Regions from separate parts of the Homo sapiens genome. Here all the other regions are reported to be linked to region 1. The links are microRNA targets in miRTarBase. Many come from high-throughput screens and were not tested one by one. Region 1 holds a microRNA gene; each other region holds the end of a gene's coding sequence.
The links. Region 1 holds the annotated microRNA hsa-miR-548n (CAAAAGUAAUUGUGGAUUUUGU, at 1,268-1,289, opposite strand). A microRNA usually pairs through its seed, bases 2 to 8, with sites in the 3' UTR of a target mRNA and lowers its output. Matches are read on the target gene's strand: a 7mer-m8 pairs with bases 2 to 8, a 7mer-A1 pairs with bases 2 to 7 and ends in A, and an 8mer does both.

Region 2: miRTarBase lists PACRGL as a target of hsa-miR-548n. Seed matches in the 3' UTR shown: 7mer-A1 at 857-863 and 7mer-m8 at 2,908-2,914.
Region 3: the mRNA of SINHCAF is a reported target of hsa-miR-548n. Seed matches in the 3' UTR shown: 7mer-m8 at 2,476-2,482 and 7mer-A1 at 2,509-2,515.
Region 4: the mRNA of PRRC1 is a reported target of hsa-miR-548n. Seed matches in the 3' UTR shown: 7mer-A1 at 573-579, 7mer-m8 at 969-975, 7mer-m8 at 1,486-1,492, 7mer-m8 at 1,516-1,522 and 7mer-m8 at 2,069-2,075.

The regions. Positions count from the first base shown.
Region 1 is chr7:34,939,537-34,942,732 of GRCh38, forward strand. MIR548N (microRNA 548n) reads right to left here and starts at 1,298; the gene lies at 1,224-1,298. DPY19L1 (dpy-19 like C-mannosyltransferase 1) reads right to left here. Exons shown (of 22, transcript NM_001366673.1): 17 at 3,079-3,103; 18 at 2,229-2,348; 19 at 617-791. LOC102724723 (a long non-coding RNA gene) reads left to right here and starts at 2,690. Exons shown (of 3, transcript XR_001745166.2): 1 at 2,690-2,770.
Region 2 is chr4:20,726,924-20,730,119 of GRCh38, forward strand. It overlaps PACRGL (parkin coregulated like), which reads left to right. Exons shown (of 9, transcript NM_001258345.3): 9 at 362-3,196. The coding sequence ends at 418. KCNIP4 (potassium voltage-gated channel interacting protein 4) reads right to left here. Exons shown (of 9, transcript NM_025221.6): 9 at 1,683-3,196. The coding sequence ends at 3,159. Among named protein-coding and RNA genes, the nearest start is that of PACRGL, 28 kb to the left of the region's middle.
Region 3 is chr12:31,279,943-31,283,138 of GRCh38, reverse strand. It overlaps SINHCAF (SIN3-HDAC complex associated factor), which reads left to right. Exons shown (of 6, transcript NM_001135812.2): 6 at 268-2,555. The coding sequence ends at 427. Among named protein-coding and RNA genes, the nearest start is that of FLJ13224, 43 kb to the left of the region's middle.
Region 4 is chr5:127,551,380-127,554,379 of GRCh38, forward strand. It overlaps PRRC1 (proline rich coiled-coil 1), which reads left to right. Exons shown (of 9, transcript NM_130809.5): 9 at 328-3,000. The coding sequence ends at 537. Among named protein-coding and RNA genes, the nearest start is that of PRRC1, 35 kb to the left of the region's middle.

The DNA of each region.
Region 1 (3,196 bases):
AAAGTAGCAGTTGGCAGCCAGGCCTGGGTAAACTATTTTCCTTGGAAAACAGAGCTTCATCATCTCATCATTAAAGATTTCTTTCTTTCTTTAAAGAAAAAATCTTAGAAATCTTTCCTGAATCTAAAAAAGAAGTATCAAATGGACTAGGAAAGCTTTACAGTAACAAGGAGTTCTGGAAGATGATTTAGTATTCAATCATTTGATACTCAGATGACAACAAAGTCTCCCTTTCCACACATGAATAAAATGTCACATTCCATGAGTTTATTTCAAGAAGGAATGTGAAGGACTAATATTAAAAATTCATTAAGAAAATAAGCACAGGAAAAATTATTTTAAATGTGGCATTTATGACTGTGAATAAATTTTGAAAAAATTAAAATCTATAAAAAATGGCAGAATAAATTACTAAGAACATATGTATAACATTTCCCCTGCAAACCATTTAAACAGGATTGATATCTCCTTTGTTTTAGATATTCTAAAAGCAACATTGCATAGAAAGAGTGAGATCAGTGGAAGTAACTAGGGTTTAAGAGTTTGCAGTGGTATATAAAATTGTGGGAAAAACAGCTAAATAATATGACTTTTTTTTTCTTTTTTTTTTTTTTACCTGGTTTAGTACTATATTTGATCCATTCTATAAGTTCTTCTTGGGGCAAATTGCTGAACTCCCCTACAATATTCCACTGGGTTTGCAGATTTGCTGAACCTTGTATTGACATTGCTGCTAATATAGCAAACACAATAGCACCAGGATGTACTTTGCAAAAGAGCCATCCAAATAGCTGAAACCAAATTAAGAATACATTGGTAATTGTTAGTATAAGTAGTATGCATCTGTTATGCAAAACTTCTTCCCAGAGAAGAATAAGGCCTCTGCTAGAGTCCCAAATAAAGGATTAATTATCCTAAAGAAAAAGCCCCAAAATAATAATCTTTGGGATCAAAAGGATTCTACCATCAGCCTCATATAAGTGGAACACAATGTAGGAAGCTCTTTTCTCAACCTGCTTTCACTACTCCCAGATTCAAGTAAAGCCACAACCAATTTACAAGGCCCAGTACAAAACAAAAATGTGGGGTCTCTTGTTAAAAAATTAAGACGTTCAAAACAGCAGCAGCAAACATTCAATCAAGTTCAGGGTCCTGAATGTGAGGTCCTGTGTGACCAGCAGGAACCCCACACTTGGAAAACCTGCCCTGGGTGACACTTTCTATTAGGTTGGTGCAAAAGTAATTGCGGGTTTTGCTATTTTTAACGACAAAATCCACAATTACTTTTGCACCAACCTATATCATCAGTCATGCTGTGGGATAAGACTCAAGATTAAAGGCTTCCAACCAGCCTCCTTTCCTGTGCCAGCCTGAAGGGGTCAGAAAGGTAGAAAGTAGTGCCTTTCTAACATAATACAACATACTGATTGGGAACCTCAAGGCTGGCTAATTTTTTCCACATCCAAATAGTCCACACTCCATAACAACACTTTGTTCTCTTGATCTTTCTCCACATGTCTACAGAGCTAGATTTCAAGTTTCTTGAGGGCTTATAAACACTGGCTTTTGACTTTTCTGTCTACTACTCTCTCCTCCATCCCTAGAGTGCGCAGTGTAGGTGCTTAGTGACTATCTGCTACGTCTAAGGGAGGTGCTGCTGTTGTACCTAGGCTGGTTGACTGATGGAAAGGTGACACTATGGAGAAGCATAAATCTGTGAATACAGAACAAGGAGGCAGCTATCCAGGAAAAATAAGCAGCAAACCACCAAGGAAGGCTTAAACTAAATTTTAAAAAGCACAAGTCAAGAATGTGCACACAAATTGCACCAACTGAAAAAAAAATAAGTTTGATACTAAAAAAAGAACATATAATTTTCAAGCACTTATAACCTGAAATTATTAGATTTCTTTGTGATATGAATGTCAAAACAAAAAAAGTTATTATTTGTACAATTAAGCTCTGCTTTCTATCAGCACCTGCAGTAATCACTCATGAACTCAGTCTGTACTAAATCGGTATTAGTTGTACACCAACAACTATTTTAAATCTTTAGAAAGATAGAAAATGATCAGCTTTGGCCCTTACCCTTTAAGAAAGATAAGTACAAAACCATGAAGAGCTTTAACTATAATCACTTAAAAGACTTTGTAATTCATTATTTTAGGGCCACTCAATAATAAAGGCTAAAATTATCATAGTAGCTATACTCCAACATAACATGTTACCTGTCTTGAGCAGATCAGTGATGCCATAACACACATGTGTGGTGTCAAGAAGAGTTTTAGTCTCATAATTAAAATACCAAGGGCTGTATATGCTAACAATTGCAATGCATGGTAAACCAGCTGAAAGAAAGAAGAAAATGTTTTTTACTCCTACTGTTTGTGAAGTTTAAGAATACTAAACTGGCAATATGCAGAAAGGGGTACGTTCTCCTTAGTAACAAAAAATACTACTAAGGTTTCTGAAACTTCGAAAACAATTCTTAAAATTCACTTTCAAACTGTTCCATTTTAGTGGAAGGCTAAAATTATAAAGTCATTAAGGCAAGTGTTTCTGTGATTCTCAGAGTCAAACCTGTGGTTAATAAAGCCCACATTTTTTAATCAACCTTGATGCTACCATCAGACCAAGAAAAGACAGTGGTAAAAGAAATGACTGCTGCCTCAAGATCTGAGGGCTCCACCTTGGAACTGCCCTCAAAACCAGACTGGACAACTAGGAGATGGGAGCAGTAACCAATCACATCTCTGAGGCCTCAAGCAAGGTGAGCAGAGAGGAAAGTGATTTCCAATCATGCAATAGACACCTCATACATATGTCTAAATGGGCTCCAGAAATCAACTGCCATTAGTGTAAAGATGATCAGAGCAGAACATATGAGTTTCCTAGTTAATTTTAACAAATGAATAGTCAGTGAATCTGCATATAGCATTCTCATAAAAACACATAACAGGCTATTTTCAAGATGATTGCTGACAATTGCCAACAAAGTTAGAAACTGGAACTAGAAAGGAAAGTCCAAATGCATGCAACTTTAAGATAAGTAAAATTATAGTCATATTAAGTCTTTACCTCTCCATGATCAAACTGGTGTTTTCTGGAACAGAAAAAAATATATTGCCATCAATTCATTATTGAAGCACTTACGTCATATATTTGCATTTTCATCTTGCAAACAGGAGTTTTACAA
Region 2 (3,196 bases), not on the chromosome of region 1:
CCATTTACTCTTCCTAGTCATCAGAGGGAGATTTTGTTGTTATCTCCCTCTAAAGATCACGGAACTTAGGCACAGAAAAGTAATTAGTCCAGGTTTGACGAATAAGTGACTAGTAGATGCTGAATTCAGATACTGGTAGTCTGGCTTCTAACTACTTCTCTAGTTAGATACTTCAAAAAAAGAGAAAGAAACAGCCTATATTTTATTTAACTCAGCAAAAAGTCCTTCTTATTTCATCATTTTGTTCTTACCCCTTTTTGTTTGAGTTTTAGATACTTTCTAGGCATATTCCTGCAAATATAATACCTATTAGGGGAACTCTGCATGATACTAATGATGCTCAATTTTTTTCTGTTGACAGGGGAGCCTTAGCATCATCAAATCTAAAATTCCAACATACTGCTCCATATGCTGTTGAAGAAGGGAGCCAACAAAAATTGTTTTTTCTACCTGTTGACGTGTCAAGCACTAACTGTGGGTACTCATTTATTTTATTCTTTTGTAAATCACAGCCACCATTCATTATTTACTAGGTTAAGATGAATAGACACTGAATCAAAGTTATTCATCAACAAAAAAGAACAGTTACTAATGGAAAGTTATTAAAATAAGTTCTATAAGAGTACAATTTTGAGGTTTATTTTTTGTATTTTTATTATTTGTGCGAAGAACCATTATTGAGTTTGCAAGATAAGATGTATTTGTATTTTCTAGTGTCTTTTTATTTATAACAACACTTTTTTGGCAATCAGTTTGTAGCTGTGCCCTTATTTTTATAGATAGTTTGCCATTTCTTGGGTTTAATGTTTAACAAGGCTATAGAAGTTTAAAATAGTGGACAAATGTTTGTGAATACACTTTTAAAAAATTGTTTTAAAAGAGAAAAGCGGTCTTGCTTTGTTGCCCAGACTGGAGTGCAGTGGCATAATCATAGCTCACCGCAAGCCTCAAATTTTTGTGCTCAGATGATCCTTTTCATCTCAGCCTCCTGATTAGCTGGGACTATAGGCGTGTGCCACCATGCCCAGCTAATTTTGAAATTTGCTTGTAGAGATGGGATCTCACTCTGTTGTCCAGGCTGGTCTCAGAATTCTGGTGAGTGATCCTCCCACAGTGGACTTCCAAAGTGCTGGGATTACAGGTGTGAGCCACCATGCCTGGCCCCATGAATACACTACTAATATTATTTGTAAATATGTATTTTATAATGTACAATGCTTGGAAAATTTTCAGAGTATTCTAGTTTAAAAAATTTTTTCTAATTCTGTAAATTCTATTACAAGTATGTTGTTTATTACAACTCATTACAACTACCTAAATTTTAGGTGTTAACTGTATTTAAGTAAATGTGTTATTTTTGCATTTCATAGCCAGAAAATACTGATGTTCACTTAAAGATATTCAGCAATTAAAATGTTAAAACTTGTACATGCATTCATTGATTTTGTTGTGCTTATGTTTAGCAATTTTTAAGAAGCTTTTAAAATATAATATAGACATAGTTCAGAATTTTGATGTAATAGAAGCAATTCCCTCTGGCTACAACAGCTGCCTGCCTGCTGGCCTTGCTTTTACCTGTTTTCATTGCATTGAGCACCATCCAGAGCTATCTGCCATCTAGAAAGTACTGTAAGATTTAATTAATTACAAAATTTCTTGGAAAAGACCTGTAACATAGACAGTAGAGTTATAAACATTTTATTTTGCTTTTATTTTTTCTTTTTGAAATACAAAATGTGCACATTGAGTTTACACAAACACGTGATGGCAAATTTCAGTGTACATGTATTGTACTACTCTTAATTTCTACACTGGTGATAGCAGGGCAGCTTTCAACATCCTATCTCTACACCAGAATAGATACCTGATTTATTGTTGCAAAGACAGTTGCAAATTTCCTCCTTCTGTAGCCTCTTGGTCTTTGTGATATTTCTACAAAACAGGGACGATGTGTGTGGCTTTAGTAATGTGGCAACTTTACAGTTTTGGCTAAGATGATTAAAAATAATCTGAATTATGATGAGCTAAATCATACTGTAATCTGGATTAGTTGTTGAGCACTTATTTTCTACTAAATCTTGGTAGTAGTTGTCAATGTAATGGAACCACTGGTGCTTTCAAAGTGAATTTTGCTTGCTAATTTTGCTTGCTGTTTGTTCTTAGTAGACAGTGGGGTAGTCAAGGTTTCTTTCTTTGTCCCTGAATGGCTTGTAATATAAATAAACATGCTGTAAGGAAGTCAGGGGAAAGAGGACAGATTTGGCCTTTAATGCTGTTAGGATTACTTGTTATTAAGCATTACTATATACTGGAGGATAGATATCCTGACCCTTTGCATATGTCTGTAAACATCCTTGTTTTGTTTGATGCCTTCTTCAACTTCCACTTAATGATTGATACTAATGATTGATACAATAGAAAACAGCCTGTAAGAAAGATTGAACAAATCCAAAATTATTATATAGGCCTTGGCTGTAACATATTATGGAAAATTAAATGCTTATTAAAATAAGTTTTATTAGGCATATGCTGATATCTGATAATAAACTAATTTTTAAATGTTTAATAATTTTTAAATGTTTAAAAATGCCAGATAAAACTAATTTCTAACAGAAGGTGGGAAGGCCATAGAAACTGGAACTATGTGTTTTTTTAATTGTTGTAATCTTGTTTCCTTAAAGTATATAAATGGAATTTAAATGGAATTACAGCATTCAAACATGAAAATTAATTTAATTTCTGGAAATTAAATGCAGATGTCACTATATTAGAAAACCATTCAAAATCCTAGGACTGAATACATACAAATGAGTAGCAAAAAACACTGATATTTTAAAATCACTGATATGTGAAAGCCTCAATAATCCCATGGCTAAGGAACCAATAAAACTATATGCCAGATTCTATTACTTTTGAATATTCACAGAGTATGAAATGAGTTAGACCATCCCCTGAACTCAGTGGCATTATGAAAAGGATGCAAATTTATAACTGAAAGCTCAAATCTTTTGGGGATTGCTTTATATTAAAACAAAGCTTGTTTGCATAATATGCTTCAGTGTCAAGCTGAGCAATCTATGCTAAAAGTGGTAGCTCCAACTTTAAGGGTGGTAGAATAGTTCACATTTGTCTGTTGGATTCAGGATCTATTTGACAAGTTAAATCACATTTTCAAAGAGCTGCATGGAGCGCATTA
Region 3 (3,196 bases), not on the chromosome of region 1:
GCAGCCTTTGAAACTGACTGCTGTCTTTCAAAATGCCGTCTTCCTCAATATTTGAGAAGATTCCAGTGTGGCCTTTAAGGCAACTGGGTAATTCCCCTTCTCTAGCTAATTGGGGTTACTCTAGGAGCCCTTTCACTTGGAATGTGCAAGATTGTAGAAGCACAACTCTTTGGTTATATTGGACTAGTTATAATAGTGAGTAGATTTCTTTTGTATTCCTATTTTTCTTCCTTATTAATGTATCTTGTTCTCCATTTTTTCTTTTAGACAGAAGATATGTTGTGGGATCATCTATAAAGGCCGTTTTGGGGAAGTCCTCATTGACACACATCTCTTCAAGCCTTGCTGCAGCAATAAGAAAGCAGCTGCTGAGAAGCCAGAGGAGCAGGGGCCAGAGCCTCTGCCCATCTCCACTCAGGAGTGGTGACTGAGGTTTTTATGTAGAAGGGGAACAAAAAAAAAAATATCTGAATTTTGAAAAACCACAAAGCTACAAACTGACCCTCTTTTTTTTTTGAGACGGAGTTTTGCTCTTGTTACCCAGGCTGGAGTGCAGTGGCGTGATCTTGGCTCACTGCAACTTCCGTCTCCCGGGTTCAAGTGATTCTCCTGCCTCAGCCTCCCAAGTAGCTGGGTTTATAGGTGCCCGCCACCAGACCCGGCTAATTTTTTAGTTTTAGTAGAGACGGGGTTTCACCACGTTGGCCAGGCTGGTCTTAAATGACCCTCTTATTTTTAACTTGGATACCTGCTATTCTGCCAAAAGACAATTTCTAGAGTAGTTTTGAATGGGTTGATTTCCCCCACTCCCACAAACTCTGAAGCCAGTGTCTAGCTTACTAAAAAAAGAGTTGTATATAATATTTAAGATGCTGAGTATTTCATAGGAAAGCTGAATGCTGCTGTAAAGTGCTCTTTAAGTCTTTTTTTTTTTTAATCCCCTTCTAATGAATGAAACTAGGGGAATTTCAGGGGACAGAGATGGGATTTGTTGTATGATAAACTGTATGTAGTTTTTAGTCTTTCTGTTTTGAGAAGCAGTGGTTGGGGCATTTTTAAGATGGCTGGCTACTCTTGTTTTCCCTCATGATAATAAATTTGTCATAACTCAGTAACATGAACTTGCCCCTAGAGGTAGTTGTTAATAATTTTGAAATATTAAGGTCTTGCCAAGCTTCTGATGATTCACACCTGTACTACTGATTATTAAGCAGGACAGACTGAGCTTTCTGTTGCAAATACCTTGGAGGAGAAAGTAATTTCTAAATATACAGAGAGGTAACTTGACTATATATGTTGCATCCTGTGCCTCCCTTCATATTAATATTTGATAAAGATTTTAATTTATGTAAAACTTCTAAAGCAGAATCAAAGCTCCTCTTGGGGAAATGGCAAGTCTTTAGGATAGGCAAGACCCTGTATGAATAGTACCAAAGCATTACCGCATGGTAGAGAACACACTCGATTAAAAATGTTAAGCTATCTGAAAAATAAAATGTGCAAGTCTTCAGGATGGCACAAAACAAAGGTTAATGCTTCTTGGGGCACATTTCTTAGAGGGCTTGCTGAGTGTGTAAATATAATCGACTTTTGTTTGTGTTACATGACTTCTGTGACTTCATTGAAAATCTGCACAATTCAGTTTCAGCTCTGGATTACTTCAGTTGACCTTTGTGAAGGTTTTTATCTGTGTAGAATGGGTGTTTGACTTGTTTTAGCCTATTAAATTTTTATTTTCTTTCACTCTGTATTAAAAGTAAAACTTACTAAAAGAAAAGAGGTTTGTGTTCACATTAAATGGTTTTGGTTTGGCTTCTTTTAGTCAGGCTTTCTGAACATTGAGATATCCTGAACTTAGAGCTCTTCAATCCTAAGATTTTCATGAAAAGCCTCTCACTTGAACCCAAACCAGAGTACTCTTACTGCCTCTTTTCTAAATGTTCAGGAAAAGCATTGCCAGTTCAGTCTTTTCAAAATGAGGGAGAAACATTTGCCTGCCTTGTAATAACAAGACTCAGTGCTTATTTTTTAAACTGCATTTTAAAAATTGGATAGTATAATAACAATAAGGAGTAAGCCACCTTTTATAGGCACCCTGTAGTTTTATAGTTCTTAATCTAAACATTTTATATTTCCTTCTTTTGGAAAAAACCTACATGCTACAAGCCACCATATGCACAGACTATACAGTGAGTTGAGTTGGCTCTCCCACAGTCTTTGAGGTGAATTACAAAAGTCCAGCCATTATCATCCTCCTGAGTTATTTGAAATGATTTTTTTTGTACATTTTGGCTGCAGTATTGGTGGTAGAATATACTATAATATGGATCATCTCTACTTCTGTATTTATTTATTTATTACTAGACCTCAACCACAGTCTTCTTTTTCCCCTTCCACCTCTCTTTGCCTGTAGGATGTACTGTATGTAGTCATGCACTTTGTATTAATATATTAGAAATCTACAGATCTGTTTTGTACTTTTTATACTGTTGGATACTTATAATCAAAACTTTTACTAGGGTATTGAATAAATCTAGTCTTACTAGAAAATAAAAGGAGCTGTTTTGTGGCTTTGTTTGACAGGTCTTCAGTAAGAATAATGTTTTTGGCTTTCACATATACTCAGTTTAAGTGCTTAGTATTAATAACAAGCCATGAAGGGAATAAATTCCTCTTCACTGAGACATAGACTTTGGAATAAAAGACATTTTAACTGATGTGCACAATTATTAATCTAGTGGATAAGATGGATTTAAAAGGAAGAACAAAATGTTCCCAGTACTTTTTACTGTCTGTGGTTTTATTACTATCTATGGGCATAGTGGGAAGCATCATTGAGACTTTAGGGAAACTATAAAAGTTGGAAGGGTGGTGGCATCAGGGGTTGGATGCTGGTTCTCAAGTTCCTAGCTCTGCCCCTTGTTAGTCATTTGAGTTAAATAATTAATGGGAATATCTACTTCACAGGATTATGAGGAATCCTAAGAGGTGTAATCCATATCAAACTTTTAGAAACCAGTTGTTTTATTACCTGGGAAAGGTAATAAAGGGCCAGACTTTTTATACTACTGTTAGTATTTAAATTTGGGATAGTCTGGATGCCACCTAATACAGTTACTATGAAATTAACAAGGTAACTAAGGAAGTTGATAGTACCAGTATTATCTATTGCTATGTCCTAAATTACCATAGATTT
Region 4 (3,000 bases), not on the chromosome of region 1:
ACTACTATAAAAGATAACTTTAGCACTGATTTTAGTACCAATCTTATTATTAACCTGAAGTGACACTTAATTTAGAACTAGAACTCAAACCTTCCGACTGTTAGCCTCGTTAATGGGGATATTTTTTAAAAAATAGATGTGTGTAATGTTACATTGATTGTGTTCTAGCCTTGTAAGTTGATATAGTTGGCAGCCTAGCTGTATTTCTCAGAGTTTGTCATAATCTATATTTAAAATAACATGAAACACTTTGAAATGTCACTTATAGCTAGTTCCAATGATATTTTTAAATGTATTATAAGTAATATCAATTTCATCTTTCCACAGGCTCAAAGTCTAACTCCCCAGGACTATAATCTGAGGTGGTCAGGCCTTTTGGTGACAGTGGGTGAAGTCCTGGAAAAGAGTTTACTGAATGTCAGCCGGACTGATTGGCACATGGCATTTACTGGGATGTCCCGTCGGCAGATGATCTACAGTGCAGCCAGAGCGATAGCGGGCATGTATAAACAGCGCCTGCCACCCAGGACAGTGTGAGAGGAGACCTACCTGGGAGACTGAGACTTTCCCCCACTTTTAGCTTGATGTTAAAGAAGTGGTTGTACCTTCCTAAATCGAATAGTCTAAATGAATCCAGTAGTTTTTATCATTTTCCTGTAGCCTGCAATTTTTCTTTCTCTAGAAAGGCATCATGTCATTCCAGGAGACAAAAAGAAACAAATCCTTTTTATAGTCATACCATTTCACCTATCATAGTACTCAAAAAAGAAAATATACAAATCTATTTACAGCACAATTTAATATACCAGATTTATAAGGTGGAAATTCATGTGCAGAGACATTTAACTTAATGCCATGTACTTGATTATTTTGTTCTTTAAAGAAGACATTATTAAAGAACATGTTGGTTGAATGTTTATAAAAGCATGATTTGCTTTGGCTTCATCTCTTTTCTGTCAGTCTTTGACTACTTTTGTATGTGCACACGATCTCAGGGCTGGTGCTGAGCAGCCTGCTCAACAGTCACTATAAGACACCTACTTGTCGGGAGATGTTCCACATTTCTGTGCATGTTTTCAGTAATATGGGCCAAAATAATGGAATTGATTATTTTCCTTTTTGGCCATCACGTACACATGTAATCTGGAAAATCATACCTTTGTCAATTTTAAACATAACTTTTGGCATTTCCCAGATTTATACTATGAACATTGGGGTAATACATTTTATTTTTTCATTGCTATATGACAGCTAAGGGGCAAATGATTCAAGTATATTTTAAATCAGAAGTATTCAAATTATTTTTGTATAATACTGTTCAGTACTTCCAAGAATAAGCTCTGACAACAGCCATTGTTTCTGCTTCCACTCATATTCTCTACACATTTTAATACAGAAATTTTTGAGAGGGGGTTACTTTATTGCTTGTGGGTTAGTATGTCTCTTACTTCAATTAAGGTTACTTATTTGGTTTGCCTTAAGCATTACTTTTTTAACTTTGTGCCATTTGGTCTTTACTTTTTATGGATGTTTTCAAAGAAACTATTTTATATTCAATCTAGTTTATTTAGTCTACTGTATTTCTATTTCGTGGAAGCCTTTTCCCCTCAAATAATATATTATATCATTTTTGGACTTATATAAATGATAATTAAATAAATTTTTTTCTTAATACTGTTGGACTTTGTATATACAAGTTCAAATAACTTTTTCGAAGATAGTTTCTTATATAAATGTAATTTAATTTTTTTACTCTTCTATACAGTTCTTTAGATGTAAAAGAATTAGCACAATCTCTGGCAGTTTTATAAAAGCTGTTGAAGCTCTTGTCCTGCACTGTCTTTAGGTATCATAGGTATCAGGTTTGCTTTGTGTTAATGCCACTTCAAGTCATTATTTGGTTTCTGCTATTTTTTTACCTGAGGATAAGAAGAATGAATATTAAATTTGAATATTAAATATATGTTACTTTCCAAGCACTGTATAATGACTGTTCAGTGAATATCAGACTTCCGTGTCATTAAAAGTCATGAGAGACAGCACAGAGAGGTTATAGGTTGCCTTGGTGTACTTTTGTCCAGGAGTAACAGGGACAGAATACTTTCTTTCTTTCCTTCAAGTACAAGAAGGCTTTCTCTACCATTTGCGTCTACACTTTATTTTAAAAGCTATCCTTTTCTAGTAGTATTTTATCATGGCAATGGCATGATGACAACAACAGTCTTTCATTACAGACTGAAGGGAAGCATGTCCTTACTTAAAATAGTTCTGCTACTTTCCCTCCTATTATAAGGAAATCTTACAGATTCTAAAAATACCTTAATTTTTCTTTGATTTTTATTTTACCAAGTCACAAATGTCTTTTTGATGTTTTGAGAATTGTTCTCATAGAATCACAAATACTGACATTTCATTAGATGATTATTTTCCTAGAATCCCCAAAGAGCAGTGGCAGTCCATGGCTTGGTTGAAGCTAGAAATTTTCCTGCCCCTGGTGACCTGGTAAGCCTCCTGCTCGGAACCGTGTGAGTGGGTGAGGAAGATGAGAGATGGTCAGATGGAAGAGAGAAATACATGAACTGCTCTGGCCTCTCTGGTTCTGTTCTTGGCCCAGAGTTTTTGAAAAGCAGCGGAGCATGACTGACTTCACATGCTCAGCTTTCTCAGCCTTTTGTTTATTTTGTTGTCCTTAGATTTCCCTGTTGTAAAAGGGGCAAGAAAAGTAACTCATCATCTCTAACACACCATGGCAGCTTAGCCAGGTAGTCTTAGTGGTGGTGTTTAGGCATAAGATATGCTGATCATCAGTCTCAGGCCACAGTTTCCTTCACTAATCGTCCAGCTTGAGTGTTCTGTTCTCTTCCTGCCCATTTCCTTGAACCTCCTGCTCTAGCCTTGGCGGAGGGAGAGTGCTATTTGCTTTTGTTCTCCCTCTGTCTTAGGAAAAGCCATCTTTAATATAGTTCTTCACCACTGTTGGGGTTGTTTTGTGATTTTTTT